Linked DNA regions of Homo sapiens. The protein of the gene in region 1 interacts with the protein of each later gene in a pairwise test. Each region holds a gene or a part of one and is shown in the gene's direction. Other genes may lie near its edges.

The links. Proteins that work in one complex are often made in the same cells at the same time.
Region 2: the proteins of GPA33 (region 1) and NRSN1 interact in binary tests that used the Homo sapiens proteins (3 or more experiments, as listed by UniProt).
Region 3: the proteins of GPA33 (region 1) and NSG1 interact in binary tests that used the Homo sapiens proteins (3 or more experiments, as listed by UniProt).

Annotation. Positions count from the first base shown.
Region 1 is NC_000001.11:167,087,374-167,094,363, reverse strand, and holds the start of GPA33 (cell surface A33 antigen precursor), read left to right. Parts: upstream 1-3,986; 5' UTR 3,987-4,076; coding exon 4,077-4,119; intron 4,120-4,952; exon of another isoform or gene 4,953-5,041; intron 5,042-5,679; exon of another isoform or gene 5,680-5,764; intron 5,765-6,990. UniProt on the Homo sapiens protein: May play a role in cell-cell recognition and signaling.
Region 2 is NC_000006.12:24,122,355-24,129,221, forward strand, and holds the start of NRSN1 (neurensin-1), read left to right. Parts: upstream 1-3,860; 5' UTR 3,861-3,986; intron 3,987-5,773; 5' UTR 5,774-5,846; intron 5,847-6,867. UniProt on the Homo sapiens protein: May play an important role in neural organelle transport, and in transduction of nerve signals or in nerve growth. May play a role in neurite extension. May play a role in memory consolidation.
Region 3 is NC_000004.12:4,382,122-4,390,108, forward strand, and holds the start of NSG1 (neuronal vesicle trafficking-associated protein 1), read left to right. Parts: upstream 1-4,980; 5' UTR 4,981-5,052; intron 5,053-5,482; 5' UTR 5,483-5,508; coding exon 5,509-5,637; intron 5,638-5,864; coding exon of another isoform or gene 5,865-5,985; intron 5,986-7,987.

The DNA of each region.
Region 1 (6,990 bases):
TAGGGCCTTTGGCTCAGGCGTCATCCTGGAGCCTATTAAAGGACATGAAGGATACCAGCAGCTGGTCCCAGCCATCATGGTTGTGCCCTGACACTCAGGGCAAAGCCGCTGCCCCTTGTATTGTAAGTCCTGGGCTCACCAGGATTGACAAGGGGAGAAGCACACTCACCTCTAACCTGCCTGGATGTTCCCCACCAAGGGCTGAGGGACCCAGATGAAATGACTGAAGCTGAAGCTCCGGCCAGTGAGACAGGAACCAGCCACCTCCTTCCTCAGGGCTTCTTCTCCTAGGGGCAGGACAGCTGTTAACAGGAAACCTTAGCCACCCTCTAAATTTAGCCTCTGGCCCCATAGGCTGGCAGATTTCTGGGAGGAAGGAATGCAGGCTCTGGACCCAGGCCCCAAAGCAGTCCTCACTTAACTCTTTCCCTCCTGGCTGATTCTCCAGACGCTTACATTTAGCAGCAGAATTGGAAGACGTTTGTGCTTGGTAGATGGAGAATCTAAAGAACAGCTTTTCTCTGGGTTCTCTCTTCAGACCCTCTTGCCTGGGACAGCCTATTCAAAGTTCTTCCAGAAGAGAGTCTAAATCCAAAGATATAGAAGAATAAACAAACTTACCACAGCCGCATGTCAACTAGAGAGGCCTAAAAAAAGGACCAGATATATAGAATGGAAAGGGTACTCAACAGATAGATATTGGGAGAGCACTGTGGTACAATTAAAGAGTAGTCATTGCTTGTGACCAGGATTACATTTCTTTTTCTTTTTTTTTAGACAGGGTCTCGCTCTGTTGCCCTGGTGAAAGTGCAGTGGTGCCATCACAGCTCACTGCGGCCTCAACCTCTCAGGGTCAGGTGATTCTCCCACCTCAGCCTCCTGAGTAGCTGGGAGTACAGGCACATGCCACCACACCCAGATAATTTTTAAATTTTTTGTAGAGATGGGGTCTCACTGTGTTGCCCAGGCTGGTCTCGAGCTCCTGGGCTGAAGTGATCCATCCACCTCCGTCCACCAAAGTGCTGGGATTACAGGTGTGAGCCACCGTGCCCTGCCTGCATTTCTTTTAATAGACATGTCTCAGGATGGTCAACTGGACAGTTGTGCTCACCCTCCACATTTCCTCCCCTCTACTCACACCCCAAGGTGATAATGGATTGGCAACCCTGGGTGACTTAAGAATTCCATGAGCTTCATAAATGTCAAATAAGCTGTCTTACCCTACTAACCCCTCTACCATCACAATGATCAAAGCAAAGCCAAATAGCCCACACCTCTCATCCCACACATACCATAGTCATCCTTTCATCCATTTATCCATCCATTTACCAACTTAAAATATTCATTGATTACCTACTACATATGACACTTTACTTGACCAAAATTGGCAAAACACATAGCTTAAAGTTGTCTTTCTTCCTAGTTAGGTGGAATGATGCCTGGTATATCGTATCATTAGAAATGGCTGAATGAATGAGCTCACTGTTTATTAGGAGGAATGAGACACAGACCAAAAATAACTCAAGCATAAGAGAGAATGTAGTTAGTGTCCTAAAAGAGATCCAGAGTGCTGTGTGAGTTCAAAGGTGAGAAAGAGCCCTTCTGACTGAAGAAATCAGGAAAGACTTCATAGAAGCAGTGGTGATATATGAGCTGACTTCTAAAGGACAAGTAAGATTATAATAGCAGATATAGTAGGGGAAGGGAATTACCGAGGGGGTGGCATCAATAAAGTTTTGGGGGTAAGGAAGTATGAGTTCTGGGTATGAAAATATGTCTAACTTGGTCAGAGCATAAATTACGTATTCTGGAAGGTAGACTGTGTTTGAGAACAAATGCTAGAATACCTTAAAAGCTAATTTGTTAGGTTCTGCAGAGTCAGTGATAGGACCCAAGCAGACAAGTAATTAGGAAGACTAATTTGGCAAAGATATTATAAAATGTTGGGGCTGAACAATTATTACATATAATAAGAGAATTAACAAGGTGCCTGAGTGAAATGTAATAAACAGAAAACAACAAATTTTGTATGTCAACCAAACCTAGCAGTCAAAAGGATTAATAACAATAAGTCATGTAGGATACTATGAATTCATAACACAAAGAAATGCTAGGGGAAATATTTGCAATGCTTATCACATCCAAAAGTTCCTTTCCCTAATATACAAAGATCTGCTAGAAGTCAACAAGCTAAAGATCAACAGCTCAATAGAAATATGGCCAAACGGCTGGACGTGGTGGCTCATGCCTGTAATCCCAGCATTTTGGGAGACTGAGGCAGGATTGCTTGAGCCCAGGAATTCAAGACCAGCCTGGTCAACGTAGCGAGATTCTGTGTCTATATTTTTAAAAATTTATTAAAAAAAGAAATACGGGCAAATGAGCTACCTAGTCTCAGAAAAGAAAATATATATGATGTGCAACTATATTAAAAGATTTTCAATTTCACTAATAATTTTTTTTTTTGAGACAGAGTCTTGCTCTGTCGCCCAGGCTGGAGTGCAGTGGCACCATCTTGGCTCACTGCAAGCTCTGCCTCCCGAGTTCACCATTCTCCTGCCTCAGCCTCCCAAGTAGCTGGGATTACAGGCGCACACCACCACACCTGGCTAATGTTTTGTATTTTTAGTAGAGGCGGGGTTTCACCGTGTTAGCCAGGATGGCCTCGATCTCTTGACCTCGTGATCAGCCCACCTTGGCCTCTCAAAGTGCTGTGATTACAGGCGTGAGCCACCGCGCCTGGCCAAATTTCACTAATAATTTTAAAAAGTAAATTATATATACATGGGATATCATGTTCACTTAGATTGGCGATGAGCAGAAAGTTTGATAACTGTGTCATAAACACTTGGTAACTGTGTTAGTGAGTGTGTGGGGAGATAGGTATCCTTATATGCTGCTAATAGGAGTGTAGGCTGTAAAATTCTCATGGTAGCTAGTTTAGCAATATCTATAAAAATTACAAATATGCATAACTTTCAGTGAGTCAGAAATTTTACTTTTAAGAATTTATCTTACATGTATAATCACAACACGTGTGAAATATCGTACACATAATAGATATTGGTTGCAATCTTTTCATAGTTGTGAAAGATGAGGAAAAACAATCTTAAAAGTAGTTTGGTTAAATAAATCATGTCACTCATATACAGTGAAATATCATCCCCATTTTAAAAAGATGATGGTGGTGGTGCTATACATACCGATACAGAAAGCTTTCTAAAACCTTTCATTAAATGAAAAATGAATAAATCATTGCAGAACAGTGTATATATATCTAAAATATCTATGGAAGAAACCAGCAACAGCCACTGCTCCTGGAGAATTATGGTCCCACACCACTGATCATTCTTTCAGTAGGGTGACCATCATCCAAATTTGCTTGGGACTGAGGGGGTTCCTTTTGGTTTGAAAACCAGGACAGTCCTAGGAAAAGTGAGACAAGTTGGTCACATGTCCCCAAGATGATCTTCTTTCACTTATGAACTTGCTACTTTCCCAGTCAGAATATAAACTCTGAAGGGGGAGACTTCCTGTTTTCTTCATGACTATATCTCTTGCGCACTGTGGGGTGGAGGCTGTAGAAGAGGAGAGAAGTAGAGAAACAGATCACATTGTGTCTTGAAGTGTTTCAGCAAATATGGGCAACACCCTTCTTTTACTAGCTTGGAACCCTACCTCTGAGTGCATTTCCCTTTTTATTATTTATTTCCTGTCAGTTATAAGAGAGGCCTACCCCTTTGTGAGCAGTCTAGGACTTTGTACACTTGTTAAGTAGGGAGAAGGCAGGGGAGGTGGCTGGTTTAAGGGGAACTTGAGGGAAGTAGGGAAGACTCCTCTTGGGACCTTTGGAGTAGGTGACACATGAGCCCAGCCCCAGCTCACCTGCCAATCCAGCTGAGGAGCTCACCTGCCAATCCAGCTGAGGCTGGGCAGAGGTGGGTGAGAAGAGGGAAAATTGCAGGGACCTCCAGTTGGGCCAGGCCAGAAGCTGCTGTAGCTTTAACCAGACAGCTCAGACCTGTCTGGAGGCTGCCAGTGACAGGTTAGGTTTAGGGCAGAGAAGAAGCAAGACCATGGTGGGGAAGATGTGGCCTGTGTTGTGGACACTCTGTGCAGGTGAGTAGGCCCCTTTTCTCTCCAGTGCCCAGGGGTGGGTGAGACATGGGGACCTAGGGCTGAAGGAGAGGCTCTGTCAGAGCCTTCCCAGGAAGGGCCTCCAGCAACACAGCTGCGTTCCTGCTGGGCCAGAATTACACATTCCGGACCAGTGCCCAGAATCAGAATGGTTTTTATTTACATATTAGTAAATAACATTCTAGCCCACTGCTGAAATGAAGAATTCAAAGTACTCTCAAGACCATATTTTCTTATCCCAAATTAGATTATAGGATCAGACACAGGATTTGACAATGTGGACAAAGTATTTGAAATCGGAGTTGTCCTAGAAAATCCAGGATGTGTGGATCTAGATATGTTCATTATCTAGTATATTAACGTTTGTGTTAAAACCAGAGAAAGAGACAGGAAACTGAGGCAGAAGAGACAATGCAACTTATCCCGTATCATTCACAGAGCAAGAGAAGATTCAAACCCTAAAAACAAACAACAAACTAGATGGGTCTTTTCCAAAGGCCAAAGCTCCTTGCCACTTCTGGGACCCTGGTCATTGAAAATTCTGGGACTCTGAGCATTTCCCTCTGGGAGGGAAACCTCCCAGAACAAAATCAGACATTCATGAGTATATGGTTGAATCCACATCAAGTGCTTAATAGCACAGTGTTCTGTGGGGACCTATGGAGTGTCTAAGGGTTAGAATGAAAGTCTTGGCATTAAGGTACCAACCATTTTGCTGGGCATTGGAAGGAAATAGAATGGAGAGAAGGAAGTTGAGAGACGCAGGGTTTGGCAAAGTTTAGGAATATCTTTGGTTTAGTGTATTTGGCCATCACCTTGCAATTCAGACACTGTTGAGGGCTTCCAGGATCCAGCTGCAACGGGGAGGAGAAGAGCTATACCAGGAAACTCAGGAGCACCAAGCCTGGGGAAGTGGAAACCAGGAGACTGGTTTAGAGCTCACTTTTTAGCATACACAGGAAAGCCCCGGGCCACGGGGCCTACAGCTCATTCTGGTTCTCCCAGGCCCTAGACATGCTTTTCTCTCAACACCTGGCCTTGGGGCTCTCGAGGGAAGGGCAGCCTGCTGCTGGGGAAGGGCTGGATCACACGGTTTGGAGGAAGATCTGGGTAAGATCATTCTCTCAGGCTGGCTCAAGTTCATCTGACTGAAGGCAGAAAGCCCCTCATCATCCACCAAGATGGACTGGTTGGCTCATTCCTTTATCCAAACAACTCTTTACTGAGCACATAGTTTGTGCAGGTGCCATAGAAGTGAGGAGTCTGGAATGATTAGTCATAAGTGGGCCTATCTCAGCCATCAGATTCAGGCAGGGAGGATGCTCCAGGGCCTGAGAGAGGGAGGCTGAAGGAAATACCCATCCTTCCCTGGCTGGGCCAGTGATTCTCCCATCTTCTCCTGGTAAGCCAGAAGCTCCTCCATGCCTGCACCACCCCAACCCCCAACACATATCCCCACACTTGTAGACTGGCTGCGACCCATGCATGAATAAAAATAAGAAATTTTGGCTTAGAAAAACGATCTTAAAACAAGATGCTCACCCAGCTTGGAGGGAAAAGTGGCCGTAACTCTGAATTGCCTGGAGCAGGACATTTTGCTTCTTCCTATGAGAAGGCAAGTGACCCCTGGGGAACTCACCCAGCAGAACGAGTCTTGGGCATGTTTTCAGACACACTGATGAAGTGTCTTCTACCTCCGCCCCATCCCTCCCACCACAGCCTGCCCAGCACAGAATCACGTGCCCACCAACTTTTCTTCCTCCATATCTTACATTAAGAGGAAGAAGGGGCCAGAGCAGTGGGGCAGGAGAAGCCAGGCTTGGTGGTCGACTTGAGGTATATAAACAGAGTTTACCAAATAGTGAAATAGCCATTGCCACTGCAGGTGAGCAAGGAAGACCTTCAAAGGTCGACCAAAAGCAACCAGGCGGCCCTCCCCACCATGCCTCATGAGAGGATACCACCTCTTCCTTTGCGCAGGTAAGGGAGACCCAGTTAGGAGCAGGGACATTAGGAAAGGCTTCCTGGAGGAGGTGGAGCTTGACTTGGGTTCCAGAGGACTTACTGGGCTTTTCTCTTCTTTCTCTTCCCATCTGACCTTTCCGAGGAATTGATTCTGCTAAGACCTGGGCAGGGAAGCACTGCACTGATGAATGGGCCTCAAGACTCAAGTGGTGTTGGAGGAAGCAGAAGCTATTCATAAGGTTCCATGCAGGGGGCACAAACGCAAGGCCGTGCTTTTAAAGTAGGGAGTTTAAAAGCAATCATAAAACCGACTAAAAGTTGGTCTGCTTTGTGTGTGTGTGTGTGTGTGTGAGACAGAGTCTGGCTTGCTCAGGCTGGAGTGCAGTGGTGTGATCTCAGCTCACTGCAACCTCCGCCTCCCAGGTTCAAGAAATTCTCCTGCCTCAGCCTCCCTAGTAGCTGGGATTACAGGCATGCACCACCATGCCCAGCTAATTTTTTGTATTTTTAGTAGAGACAGGGTTTCACCATGCTGGCCAGACTGGTCTTGAACTCTTGACCTCGCAATAAGCCCGCCTCAGCCTCCCAAAGTGCTGGGATTACAGGTGTGAGCCACCGTTGGTCTGCTTTTTATGATTATCATGTGCTGACAATTCTAAACAGAGTCAGTGACAAAACAGACCTCCATGCCTGGGAAATGTTCCACCCGTCCCTCCTAACACTCCACTGCCATCCCAGGGGACCAAAGGGGGCTGACCCCAGTGCCTCTTAACTGACTATGGTGTGGGCAAATGGCTTCACTTTGCTAAAGTCTTCTTGCACAGTCTTCTAGTCTGAAATGGAGGGGTGTAAAATTCACACTGTGCCCCAACAGGGCTATTATAGGTA
Region 2 (6,867 bases), on another chromosome or scaffold:
CAGAGGCTGACCAGGCTGCAGTCATCAGAGGAGCAATAAAGGTCACTACGATATGGCTGGAGCCTCTGCCTTTCATCAGCTGAATGAAGGAACTGAATGGAGTTCCTTCTTGACCACTGTCCCATCTTCCTCTTACACACCCTGGATTCCAGGAACGAACCTGGGACCTGAGCTTGCAAGCTGAATCTTGTACTTTTCATGCCCTAAAGCTGTCATAATATGCTTTTTCCCGCCTCCTTCTATCCAAATCTTACCCACCTATCAAGGACTGTCTCTAGATCCACATTATTCATTTGCTAATTTATTCATTTGCCAAAAATAAGTACTTAATTTGTACAAAGCAATGTGCTAGTCATTGCGTGGAATACTAGGTAAATTGTGGGCAAGTCTTTTCTTTGTGATGCTTATAAGCCTAACATCGGAGAGCAAACAGATACCAAAATAATTCCAATATAAAATAAAAGAAAAAGAAAACCTGTTAGTACCCTAACACAGGTGAAACTAGATGCTTAGGAGTACAAAACAAAGAACAAAGAGTTGTACTGAAGCACATCAAAGGTTTTATTGAAAAGGTGACAATTGTGCCAGGACTTGAAGAACAGGTAGCACATGAGGACACAGATATGCAGAAAGAAACGAAAAGAACCACTGAAGTAAATAGAAGGGGGGAAAAAAGCTGCAAAGTGTGCGTGAAGAACACCAGATATGTTCAGTGTGATGAGAAATAGAGATTCATGAGATATGAGGTTAGAAAAGCAGCCTGCCAGCCAGGCGCGGTGGCTCACGTTTGTAATCCCAGCACTTTGGGAGGCAGAGGCAGGCAAATCACCTGAGGTCGGGAGTTTGAGACCAGCCTGACCAACATGGAGAAACCTCATCTGTACTGAAAATACAAAATTAGCCAGGCATGGTAGCACATGCCTGTAATCCCAGCTATTTGGGAGGCTGAGGCAGGAGAATCACTTGAACCCGGGAGGAGGAGGTTGCAGTGAGCTGAGATCGCACCATTGCACTCCAGCCTGGGCAACAAGAGCACAAGAGCAAAACTCTGTCTAAAAAAAAAAAAAGAAGAAAAGAAAAAGAAAGAAAGAAAGAAAAGCAGTCTGACTAATCACAGTGTCCCTTCTGGAAAACAACCCAGGGGGAAACCACAGCCTCTCCTGACCCCTCTTCTCTGGGACTTTCATATGCTTCTGTCTGTCCCTCGCCCTTTGTGCTCTAAATGGCAGACATTCAACAAATGTGTGTTGAATAATAAATTAATAAGCTATTCACTGCTAAGTGTTGCCATATAATATAACCCAAGGAAATTGTATGGTGTGTTCTAAGTCAAAACAGTTGCTTCAAAGTAATCATCTTTGTTCCTTAATGTTTGCAAAACTAATAAATAGAAACTATGATTTGTGAAAAGCAAAATAATGGTGATAATTCACATGTTAAAGGCATCTTGAGGTATGTGAACCATGTTTTATTTTATCTCACCAGTTACTTCGTTGAGAGTGAGCCAAAAGCAGATGTACTGGTGGAATTTAGAAGACCTGTGCTACTCCCAGTTTCCTCAACAGGCATTTCCACATTATTGGAAACTTCAGCAGAGGGGCCAGAGATGGCACAAGTTGGAACCGAATCTGGCAAAAGAAGAGATAAAGCAAATGATAAGTGCCTGGGAAACTTAGAATTCTTGAGACTCCAAACTGGAAATACTCAGCGGCTTTTAAAATGTTTAGCTAAATCATAGTAAAATTAAAATAGCAATAATAATATAACAATAATAGCTAGAATTTATTGAGTACTTACTATGTACCAGATACTGTGATGTCTTATCAATATAATTTCATTTAATTCTAATAACTAGCCTATGAATTAAGTATTATTAGAAACATTTAATAGATGAGGAAAGTGGGGCATAGAGTGGTGAGGCAACTCCAACTGTAAGTCTTAATTAGACTACCCCTCTGAATGAACAGATGCATTACCAATAGAGATCAGGACACTTAGCAGACACCAACGAGGCAGACATTTCCCTTCCTGGAGCCTAATCTCTGATACAAGAGCAGCTCAGAGCCCCTGGAATTTTATATATGTGCTGATTCTTACAGACTTTCAAGGATGCAAAAACATACACGGCCACATTTAAGTGTTCAATGGATCCACACACTGCAAGCTAACAAGCAATATGTTAAAATTCATGAAAGGTGTACTTTTATGCAGGCTGGGAAGGGAGAAAGAAATAAGTGGCACCTATATATTTAAGCTGTGTTGAAGAGGGCTGGGCTAGAGTTGTGGACGCGAGGAAGAAACAAGACAAAGCCATCCCTGTCCTTGGTGGCCCCCTAAACATTGGTTCAACAATTTTCTTTGGTCTGCCCACTGTTTAACAAGACAGAGGTGTTTCTTAGTGTTTTTTAGGCTTTTTCCTGAAACCTATGTGGAAGTGAGGAAATAATGGGCAAAATATCACTTATATCCTTAACCCTTTCCAGGAGATCATCTTGCAGATTGCAGATTTAGTAGCTATATGACCTTCGACAAGTAATTGTGAGTCTGTATCACCGTTGAGTGCGTGTCACTTTTCTGTACCTCAGCTTCTTCTGTAAAATCTGGATCAGAGAATGCCCACCACATTGGGTTGCTGTGAGGATTAAATGATATAATATACATATAATTAATATATATGTAATGTACTTAACACAATGCCTGGCATATAGTCAGCACTATGTAAATGTTAGGTATTATTATTATTATGTGTAGTATAGCCATGCAAATATTAACTATTTTAGTAATTATTCTCATTAAATGCCACTTACAAGAGGTCTGCAGAAAGTCTCCTGAAGCAGAGGTTATTGTATTTATACACTAACTTGCCCACAACTGTGCACATTTTCTAAGGCATTCGCGGGTAATTTTCTAATGTGTTCTTGCCTTTATGCATTTGTGCTTTTTTCTTGAACGTCATAATTTAATTTATTTTCTTCATCTTTCTTTCATCAAACCCATTTGGACTTCCTGACGGTAGGGTAAGGGAAAGAGTGAGGATTAAAACTACCCAATATTCAAAGAGGTGAGAAGGTTCTTCATTTGGGCAGTGCTCTACCAGCAAAGAGAAGCTCCTCACCTTGTGTCCCATCAGGGACAGAAAACATCTCTAATAGGGTGGCAGTGGAAGAAACACACATCATGACCATCTGCCTCTTCACTCATTTTAAAAATATGTACAGTCATGCACTGCCCAGTGATGTTGGAGTCAACGACAGATTCTATGTATGACGGTGGTTCCATAAGGTATTTTCACTGTACCTTTTCTATGTTTAGACACACAAATTCTTACTATTGTGTTCCAACTGCCAACAGTATTCAGGAGGGTAACATGCTGTACAGGTCTGTAGCCTAGAAGCAATAGGCTCTACCATATAGCTAGGTGTGTAGTAGGCTGAACCACCTTGGTTTGGGAAAGTACACGCTATGATGTTAGCAGGACGAAATCGCCTAACCACATATTTCTCAGAGTATCACATCCCCATCATAATGCGACGCCTAACTGTATATTGAACCAGCCTTCTACGACCAAAATATGGTCTGGGCAGAAAAAAGCTTTGAAGAAGCACTAAGGCAGAGAAGGTGCCCATCCTGGGGAGCCTCGGCAGGGCCCAGTGACCAGCCTTCCATGGCCCTGACAGCTGCCCTAACAGAAGCTCCAGCCTCACGGTGCAGGCAGGAACAAGCCTGGCGCGCCAGACAGCTCGGCCCCGCCCACTCGCCGCTCTCGGAAAGCTGGAACCCTGCCCCTTTGGAGGGGGAGGCGGCGGCGGCGGCGGCGGCTGCGCGGGCCTCGGGTGCGCGGGCACGCGGGACTCCCAGCTGTCAATCAGGCGCGGGCTGAGCTCTACGAGGCGGAGCGGCGGCGGTGGCGACGGCGATGGGACCCCAGCGAGAGATCTGCAGCTAGGCTGGCTGCACTTGCTCCACGGGTCAGGGGATCGGAGGGGGTAGGTAAAGCCACGCAGAGTCCAGGGGTGGCGGCTTTCTATTCTCCAAATGTCTTTCTCCAGTTCTCCCTCTCCTCCCTTTCTCTCTTTCCTTCCTCCTTCTTCATGCATAAATGTTCTTTCTCTCTCTCCCTCCCTCCTTCATTCACGTTTATTATATGTGCACCAATCTCCACAAAAAACATGCGTATTAAAATCGGTGAAAACATACAAATTAGGAAGAGCTAGCTCCATGCTTTGGTGGTTTGTGGTTTGTGTTATGTAAGAATTTGGGGGGTGGGGCACGAGGGGCGTACAGCTAAAAACTTTAGAGTTTCCTTTCCATAAGATAAGAAAAGTTGTGTATTAGGAAAGAGTCAAATATATGTATCTAGAGTTTGCAAAGTTGGTTTATTTATCAGGCTGAATTGAGCCCCCACTGGCCCTCCCCACTCCTGTGCCACGTCTGAAGATGTTTCAGTGTTTTGGCGTGATCTCAGGACCTACTTCTTTGTGTTGTTAGACAGGAACATTAGGGTGGGGGTCAGACAGAGTCTGGAGGCCTCAAAGAAAACAGAGCTGGAATTTAACAGCTAATGTTTGTTTGATTGGTTCCTGGCACTGTAACAGAAATGTTTTCAGAACCTTGGAGAGCTCCTTGGGCGCCACATCAGGCCAGCCTTTGGTGAAGGGCATGTGGGGAATCTTCAGCGAAAATGGAGAAGCTGACAGAAAAAAGAAGAGAAATGTAATTCAGAGAGGCAGAGAGAGACAGGAAAGAAAGAGATACAGATGGGGGTGGAGGGCAGGTGTTGGGGGAGGGAAGAAGAGGAGAATGTAGTGAATTTAGTGACCTATGATTGGCTTGTTTTCGTTTGCTTATCCAGATCCAGGAGGCTAATATAATTTGCTTCTTTCCCCCAAATCTGCCCACACACCACTCACAAAATTTGGGGGAAAGTAAATGGGTCTTGACGATTTGGCTTTGGTCCATATAGGCTGACCCTAGAAATGCTGAAAACAGTTTATCAGGCCTCAGCTAGGCTTACTCACCTCAAGTCTTCAGGTTCTCCTGCAAACAAATGGGGACCTGTTCATTAGAAAGAATTCTTAATGATCCCATAAAAAATATGGTCCCAGTTATTATCTTATTTCACATAACTAGAGTAATGTAGGAAACCAACAGCCTTATAGTTGGCAATGGCTTTTTAATCAAATTTTGCATGGGCACCTGCTTTTCTTAGGCAGCTGGAAAGCAAAATGATCATGATAGGAAGAAAACGGATATAGGAGTAAAACTCAGCCTAATAAGTAAATCATCCAAAGAGCCTTACGAAGTGTAAAATGTATGTAAACATATCAGAAAATATAGTGATTATAGGACTCATATATTTTACATTATAAGACCAAGCACCAAAAAAGATCCATTCTGAAGTATCTAGGAAGCAAGGAACTTTTTTAAATTTAGAATTTGTAAAATAGAAATGGACCAGCCTATTTGGAATTACTAACAACATGGAATATGGTTATGTAAAAATGAGAATAGCACATATATAGTGTGTTATAATTTACAAAGCCCTTTTATGTCATCTCATTCACTTTATAAATTATTATGAGAACCCATTGAAAAGTTCTAAAATACAGTTTAGACTTTTGTTTTTTAGAAAGCTATCTCAATTCTTAAACACGAATTTCTTTGTCAATGCTTTTGTGAACATTAAAATGATTCTTTATAAGTTATATGAATGACTTATGAAATTTAGATTTTGATCTGGATTACATTCTGCAGAGACTTTTTTCTTAAATAGGATTGAAGAATGCGCCATTAAAAGGAAAGATCAAGGAGTAAACCAGAAGAAGAAGAAAAAGAGGACTTCAAAGGTAGGACTCAAACCTTATCACATGTAGATTCATAAGCACCCTGTGTATGCATGTAGATAAAGAAGAGATTAAAAGAGAATATGGGTTCTTTTCTCATTTTAGCTTTGGATTTTATGTACCTTTCTAAAAAATGAATCTTGAAGAATTAAAGTAAATGATAACAAGTAAGATAATCTTACATTGTTACTCCTTTTTAAAAATTATAAAAGTGGTTGCATGTCCACTGACTTTGAAGGTATTTTAATAACTCAATATAAAGCCACAATCTCTACCACTGTTTCAGAAAAATAAAATATCTCTGAAATAATCCATTGGTAGGAACACGGTTCAGGATTTAAGAACATGCTTATATAATTTCAGAATGCCTGATTTAAAAGTGAAAAAGCTGTTAGCAGGCTTTCATGCCTTCCTGTATCCCCTATGAGTCTGACTGAATCTTTTAAGGAACTGACCTTTCGGCTTGGTGTTGAATAAGTGGTCTAAATTGTCTATGTGCCTGTACTTTGTCTTTTGCAGCACTGGCCCTGTGGAAAAGTGGCTATAATGGGAACCTCAGTCTCATTATCTCAGAATCATTTTATGGGAGAGAAAAGCAGCATGAAAAATTGAATGATATTTCAAAGAAAATAAATAGAACAGGGCCTGTGCCTGGCCTCACAACTGACTCACACATAGTGTCACAGGAAAACACTCATATTTGTTGCCTCTCTTCTCTCAAGGAGACCTTGAAGACAAAGAATATAATGTCTGTAATGTTCTTAGAGTTTCATGAGGCATAAAGATTTATTTCTGCTTCAAGGCTATGAACATTTATAAAGGAAAATAAAAAGTAACTGCATATATTACACAGAAATTTAAATTTCCAACACATTGATACTACAGTCTATTGGCACACATAGTGATATCACAATAGCACATTCATGAGCTTGTTTCCCTAATACAGGAATTATTCAAGGAATTCTCAGCATTTGTACTCCCTTTACCTCTTGATGATGCCCATTTTGTTATGTTTATTGCTTCA
Region 3 (7,987 bases), on another chromosome or scaffold:
CAGCCTCCCAAAGTGCTGTGATTAAAGGGATGAGCCACCAGGCCTGACCTGACTTTCTTACTATGCACTTGAATTCGAATTTACACCTCTGATGTTCATGTCTTACTTTACTGTGAATGTAAGCTAAGTGGATGCCTATTCAATTAAGCAAACATTTCCTGATTACCAGGCCATGCTCTAGACAGGGGGGATATGGAAATGAAAGATTAAGTGGTTCTGCCTGATTTGCTCATGATCTATATAGAAATGTAAATACCCAGACTCCGGGATAGAGGAGCATAAAGAAAGGCCAAGCTTCAAAGAGGAGGCAACATTGGATCTGGGCTTTGGAGGATGAGGAGCAGTTTGCAAAATCGATGAGGAGTGGGGAAGGCAATCTAGGCAAGAGAAGCAGCATTTGCAAAGGCCTGGAGGCAGGCACTTGGGGGAATGGAGAATTTGGCTACAGGACAGGGTTTAAGGAGAAACAGGGATGACTTCACCCAGGTGGGCTGATTCTTCACATTGCAAATGGATTGTCCCATTTGCAGAAAGATCCAGAGCCTAATGTCTCTCCCGATTCTGTGTCAGTGTGCCGGCTGATCCCAGTGTGCCGGCTGGTCCCAGCGTGCCGGCTGGTCCCGTGGATTGAGAAGTGGACCCAAGAAACTTAAAACCATCAGAGATGAGGATGTGTGCAGGGAGTGACTGTTGTGGGATGCAGGTTTCTTTACGGGGTGATGAAAATGTTCTGAAATTAGTGGTGATGATTGTACAACCTTGTAAATATACTAAAACCAGTTAAGCGTATACTTTAAACTGGTGATATCTGTGGCATGTGAATTACATCTCAATCTAAAAACAAGACATTTGGATGAAGCATCGCTGGATCGACGTGGCCAGGCTGCAGAAAAACAGAGCAGAACCTCTGCTGATCACCTGCCACTGAACCTCCATAGGCTGACAGCACTGGGTGGCCACCCTCCCAGCAGGACCTCATCCATCCTGGAGATCTGGCTGGCTGTGGGAGGCCTGACTAGATCCTGCAACCCATCCCAGCTCTGCAGGGAAGCCTGTGGCCGGGGACTCATCATTTGACTTCTGTGACCTGCAAAGAGGCTCATGAGGCCTCTAGGGGAAGAGTCACCTTAGTCACTCTGAACACTTGTCACATAACCAGGAAAAGTGTCTATCACCTCGCCCTGGCTCCAGCACCGGCTGCTAAGAATAGAGACCACAGGAGTACAGAATTAGAGGTCAAAGCAATAGTAATACCTAAAACAGGCACTTAAAAAAATAAGAATAGCTCATTTGATTCTCACAACACTGCTCTGATGGAGGTTTCATTATCTCCATTTATAGATGGGGAAACTGAAGCATAGAAAGGTTAAGCAGCTTGCCTGAAGTCACACTGCTAGGAAGAGAGGGACAGGATTCAAAATCGGGCCACGGCTTAGCCACTGTGTCACATTGTCTCTTGCTGTGACAGTCTGGACTTCAACCAGTGGGACAAGGGAAGTTGCTAAAACGCTTGGACCTGGAAGTACCAGGGTCATTAGAGAGCAGCGCCTGGCTGCCCTGAGGAGAGGGAGCAGGGTAGGAGTTACAATCGTACAGGCAGTGATGGGTCTGTGCCTGAGATCAGCAACCCTGGAAGTATTCCTAAAAGAGTCATTTAGGGCCAGGTGCAGTGGCTCACTCCTGTAATTCCAACACTTTGGGAGGCTGAAGCAGGTGGATCACGAGGTCAGGAGATCAGGACCATCCTTACCAATATGGTGAAACTCCGTCTCTACTAAAAATACAAAAATTAGCTGGGAGTGGTGGCACGTGCCTGTAATCCCAGCTACTCAGGAAGCTGAGGCAGGAGAATCACTTGCACCAGGGAGGCGGAGGTTGCAGTAAGCTGAGATCACGGCACTGCACTCCAGCCTGGCGACGGAGCAAGACTCCGTCCCAAAAAAAAAAAAAAAAAAAGAGTCATTTAGAAAAACTGAGTATGTGTCAACAATCTTCTGTGGCACTTGGATTTTAAATTGTTGGTGCTGGGATGAAACTGGTCCAGGGGGAGATCGCATCCCATTGATTTTCCCTTTTTGTATGTTGTGAAAATACCTGACATCTGTTTGACCTGCAACCACCATTGCAGCCTCAGCCATCCCCATTTTGGTGGCTGTGGCTTCTTCAACCTAATTTCTGCCACCCTCTGTGAATGACTTGGGTTCTCCAAATCACCACACCCTTGCAAGCTTAATGCCTGTAGTGAGCTGAATGGCGACCCTTAAAAGATATGTCCACATGCTAACCCCGGGAACCTGATTTACCTTACATAGTAAAAGAGTGAACATTATCTTATATGGCAAAGATAGGATTAAGTTAAGGATTTTGAGAGGGAGACCTTATCCTGGATTATCCCAGCAGGCCCTAAATCCTATGATGAGTGTCCTTATAAGAGACACAGAGAAGAGGAGGAGGCAATATGACTGGAGTGACATGAAGGCAGAGATTGGAGTGATGCAGCCACAGTCAAAGAATGTCTGGAGCCACTGGAAGCTGGAGGGGGAAAGAACAGGTTCTTCTCTGTGGCTTGTAGAGGGAGTGAGGCCCTGCTGGGACCTAGACTTTAGACTTCTGGCCTCCAAAGCCAGGAGAGAACATGTTTCTATTGTTTTAAGCCAAATTTGTTCCAACAGTGGCAGGAAGCTCATATACTGTCTTAACACATTCTGTTCTCCTACCTGGAATGCCTTCCCCTCTGCACGCACCTCTCTCAGGCCCACCTGTAGGAAGCTTTATCCACAGTCTTTACCCACAGTCTCTGGATGTCCTCCCTCCTGGCAAGAGGCAGAGGCCACTCTCCCACAGGGCCACTGCTCCCAGCAAAGACTTGCCCTTGTCCGTAGCTCCCTGCGGGTGGCGCTGTGTCTCATGCATTTTGCATTGTCCATGCCCTTCACAGGGCCCAGATACAATCAGCAGAGGAAGAAAACCACAGGATGAAACAGTCCCAATGACCAGCACCAGTGAAGACCCAAGACAGCACAAAAGGCCAGCTAGCAGAGAAACATGATTGTTCACCGTCCATCTCTGGGACAACCTAGGTCCTTCTTGCCTTTCTGTCCTCCTCAGTTGACAGAGTCTCTAAGGGAGGGGCAGGGCCTCCACTTTGTTCCTCCTGGTGTGGAATTCTGACCAAGTGTGTGTGTGTGTGTGTGTGTGTGTGTGTGTGTGTTTGCGCGCGCGCGTGTGTGTTGGGTTCTGTTAAATGCTTGAGCCTGAGACGGGGGGCGGGGCGGGGGGGGGTGCGGGAAAGCCATTTCCTTGCTTAAGCCCAAAGGGTTTCTCCTGACCAGTGGGTCACTCTCATGGCAGATGCCTGGGCAGATTTCTGAAGTGGAGCAAGAGAAATCTTCTCTTCTTCACCTGCTTCAGGGAGGCATCAAAGTGCCAAAAAGGTGGGTTCTGTGGGTCCCCGAGGCCCGTGGCAGGGGCCAGAGTCTGACACCCGCTTTCCCTGGGTTGGGGGCGGGGTGCCTCTGCCAGGAGCCTGGGTTCAGACCAGGCTGGCCTGTGGTCAAAGGCACACTTAGACCCTGGCTGGAGAGTTGGGGCGAGTTACGAGATACCCACTAGGTCACCTGTCAAAGACGGCTAGCCCTCCTGGGGATTTTGAAATCAGGGCACCCGCGGCAAGTTCCCAGGCTGTGCCTGGGGCTCAAGGCGGTGGCTGCTCCTGTGCTCTGGGCTTATTCCCAGGATTCTCAGACGGCTGATGGAAAACGCCCCGGACCCTCCGTAGTGCCGCGGGGAAGTCCCCGGAAAGGGTGTGAAAAAGTATCGAATTTGGGTGATGCCTCCTCCTCGTCCAGCGCCTGACAGGGCCCAGCTCCTGGCCCAGGTGCCCAGGAGGCACCGATCCCCGCAGCCGGCCTCCTCCCGCGCGGGCTCCACTCCCATTTCGGCCTCGCCCCCACACCCCATAGTCTTTCATCCGTGAGTCCTGCAGGCAGGACGGGTTGGAGGTCTGCAAACAGGACCCTCTCTGGGAAGCCGCGACAGCGGCTGAGCTCGGGGTTTGGGGGCGCAGGTCGGGCTAGAACCACCCCCCTTCTCTCCGCGTCCGGGCATCGTCCCAGCGGCCCCTCCTCTGTGCCCAGGATGCTCGGGCGGCGGCTGCAGTGGGACCTCCACCTTCTCTGCCAACCAGAGCGGAGGAACCTTTCCGCCTCCCTCCAAGCGGCGCACTGAGCGCTCTTTGCCTAGAACGACTTCCCTCCCGCTGCCTGGGGCAGCCTCACCCTGGGCGCCCACACCCCAGCCCTGGGAGAGCGCTACTCCGCCTCCCGCACCACCGAAAACCTCCTCCTCCTTTACGGGCCGCGCCTCCTTTACGGGCCGCGCCCCCTTTATACGCGGACGCGCCCTCTTTTGGTCGCCCCCTCCCCAACCCAGCACTAAGGAGCACCCTGCTCTGGTCTCCGCCACCACCCAGCGCCTCCTGGACCCATCCCCCCAAACCCTTGAACGTCCTCAGGACCCCCAGGTGAGCGCGGCGCGCTGCGGGCGGGGACCCTCTCTGCACCTCCCCGCACCCCTGGGGGTCGCTCTGTCCCTACGGTCCCCGCCTCCCCTTTCTCCTTTCTAAGCGCCTCGCGCCCAGGCCGCCGCCCGGGGTGGCGCAGCCCGCAGCCCTCCCGCTCCGGGCGCCCTCCGCCGCTCCGAGACCCCCTGGGGGCGCGTCCTCTCCCGCTCCCCTGTTCCCTCCCCCGGCTCAGGGCGGGCGCGTGGTCCCAGGGGAGGCTCCCGCCCAGCCCCGCACTCCTTTGTGCGGCCGGGCGGGCGCTGCGTCAAGGTGGAGGCGCGGCCACACGCGCGCACCCACCCGCGCGCACCCAGCCCCCGGGAGAGGCAGGAAGGGAGGCGGCGGCGCGAGGAGGAGGGAGCGGCCGTGGAGCCCAATCGTTCGCTCCCCTTCCCGGGTCCGCGCGCGGCGCCGCCTCCGCCATTGCTGCGAGCAGGAGCAGGAGACGCGGAGCTCGGAGCGCTCAGCTGACCTGCCGGAGCCGGGCGTGGGTGAGTGCGGCCGGCCGCGCCTGGGCTTGCCGAGGCCAGACCTTGCCCGCCCAGGAGCAGTGCCCGGGGGATGCCCATCTCCCGGAGTACGCGGGACGGGGCTGTGAACAGCGGGTCGCCCGGGTGCGGCGGCCCCAGGACCGGGGACCGGGTCTGGAGGTGCTGGGCAGGGGCGGCGCCCCCTTCCCTGGCCGCGGTGCGCCCTTGCGCCCGGCGCTTGGGTCCTGCGAGATGAGGGTCTAGAAATACACAGCACCACCCGACCCCCGCATCGGGCCGTGACCACCGCGTCCCCACGAGCCCTCCCCGAGACGAAGCGGGGCCGGGGAGCTCGCGGACGCCGGGACGCCGGTGGGTGTGGGTGCCCACTTCCCCCCCGCCCCGCCCCGGGTCTTGCTTGTGGTGACTCCCCCCGGCCCTCCCGCCGCAGGCTGCAGCCTCGGAGCTCCCGGAACGATGGTGAAGTTGGGGAACAATTTCGCAGAGAAGGGCACCAAGCAGCCGCTGCTGGAGGATGGCTTCGACACCATTCCCCTGATGACGCCCCTCGATGTCAATCAGCTGCAGTTCCCGCCCCCGGATAAGGTAAGCCCCCCCACGCCCCTCCACGTTGCCGGGTGTGCACCCCCAAATCTCGCACGGCGGGCGCAACAAAAGAAACGCGCCGCGTGCGCTGGGTACGCGAAGTGGGGGCGGGCTCGGGAGGCCGGAGGGAGCGCGGCGAGGACAGTGTACCCGCGCGGGATTCTGGATCGCGGGATGCTGGGCGGGGGAGGGGAGCCCTGCCTTAGATGATATTCTCGTCCTGACAGTGGAACGCGGTGGGGCAAGATTCCTTCGCGTTTTTCCTGGGAGCCTCATCCGAGAGGGCCCTGGCCCCGCAGCTGCCCTGCTCCTCCCTTGCCCCGTGGCCCCAGGGGCTCTGGATCGGGGGTGAGCCTAGGGGCGGGCGAGGCTGCCCCTGTACCTTCCCGGGTGTGGCAGTTCAGCCCGACTTGCCCCACCGAGGCGGGGGAGCGTTCTCCTTGGTCAGATGGCCCCTCCCCAGGGCTGAATTGTTCTCGCCCTTTCTGCCTGCCCCTGCCAGGCTGGCGCTAGGTGCAGGAGGGTGTGCGCGCTCACACAGGGTCTCCTTCCTCTTTGTTCCTTTTGTGAAATCTCCAAATAAGTGCCCGGGCTCGCTCAGTATTGGTGTCACTGGGAAAAACCATTCATCAACCTTTCCCCAAAGTGTTTTCTGCTGAATTTAAAGAATCTCCTCTTTTTGAATGTAGCATCCAATTAAGTAGTTTCTGTTTGCTAAGAATAATATTTCCAAGAGTTAACACTTAAAAATGTAAATAGATCTTTGCATGTCTAGGCAATTGTACTGTAAAATTCACATCTAAGACCATAGACACAGCATCTACTCTCAGCATCTTGCTGCCGCTTACGAACCACCACAGCCACGAATAATTCCCGGAAGTGCTTTTCTATTTATTTTCTCATTTAGTCCCTGGTGAAGGGGCTCTGAGCCAGGGCTCTGTCTTCGTTCCAGCAAGTTGGTGATTGCTGACGGGGTGGGTGTTGTGGGGTGGGGGTGTCCTGGTGGGGGCCCTGACCCCTGTGAAGGTGTCCTCCCAGCTTTATTGTGTGTGTCGTCTGGGGAGGGAGGCAGGAGCCGGGAAGAGGCTGGCAGCGGGGGTTTCAGTTCAAGAAAGGGGGATCAGCCGGCCACACCTGTGCCCCCCAGGCCACGGTGGTGCCACTCTGGGCCACTGATGGTCCAGGCTAGGCTTTGCAGGAGGGGCAGGGCTGCCTGAGGCCTCAGCTTCCACTCCACCCCTCCCTGTCTAGGCATCAGACTCGTCCAGTTAGCGGGGCCTGGCCCCGAGGCCCCCACACCCCCTCCTGCCTGGGCCCCCAGCTGCTCGGCTGAGGAGCAGTGGCGCCTGTGCCAGGAACTCCGTGTCCTGAGGCAGCACCTCTATCAGGTGATTCCCCTCACTTGGCCTGAGCCTCCTCTCTTGTCCTCAGTCTGTTCCATTCCAGAACCATTTGGCACAGTTGGTTTATACAGGGAGGAGGGTTTCAGGCAGGTATGAAATCCTCACCAACTAATTAGGTCGACCAGGAGTAGCCTAGGCAGCTCGGAAAGGTGATGAGTCTGCTCTCTCTGCAAGCGTCCGAAGCGGGGCAGCCAGCAGGGATGCTCTTCTCGGGTCCAGCCAGACCTTCCATCCCGGACTTCCCGCCGGGACTGAGTGTGGGTACAAGGGTTATGGCTCTTGGGATCATTTTCCAGAAGGCTTCTAAGGTCACAATGAGGGAACTGAGCCTCAGAGCATTTATGGGACATACCCAAGGTCACTGGGCTGAAGGTTACAGTCCTCCAGGATGCAGAAGTTTCTGGCAGTGCCTCTTACTCCACTGTGCTTGGAGCCAGATGTCTCTCACGTAAGACCTCTCTTAACCTGAACAACAGCAACGTGTTGCTAACGGTCAGAGTTCAGGGAGGCGATGTCACCTGTTTCAGGTGACATGGCTTCTGAGGGGTGGTGACACAGTTGGGTTATAAATGAGAATCTGTTCTGAGAACGTGTATGGAGTGCTGAGGTGCTGGGGTGCAGCGGTGACAGCAGTCACAGTGCTGGCAGCAGAGTCAGGGCTGGTCTCCCCTGACATTTGCCAGACACTTATTCTGCACCAGGAACTATTCTGCCAGTTTTACAGGTTTAAATTCTTTTAATGTGTTGATAATGCCATGAGGTCACTACCATGTTACCCCCATTTTGCAGATGTGGAAATGCAGGCACGGAGAGTTTGAGAATTGCCCAAGGTCACCTAGCCTGTTAGTGGCAGGTGGGGATAGAATCCAGGTCGACAGAATATTGATGGGGCCCCCACATACGGGAGAGGTTTCCATGGGTTTCCTCATCCTCAGCAGTAGCCTTAT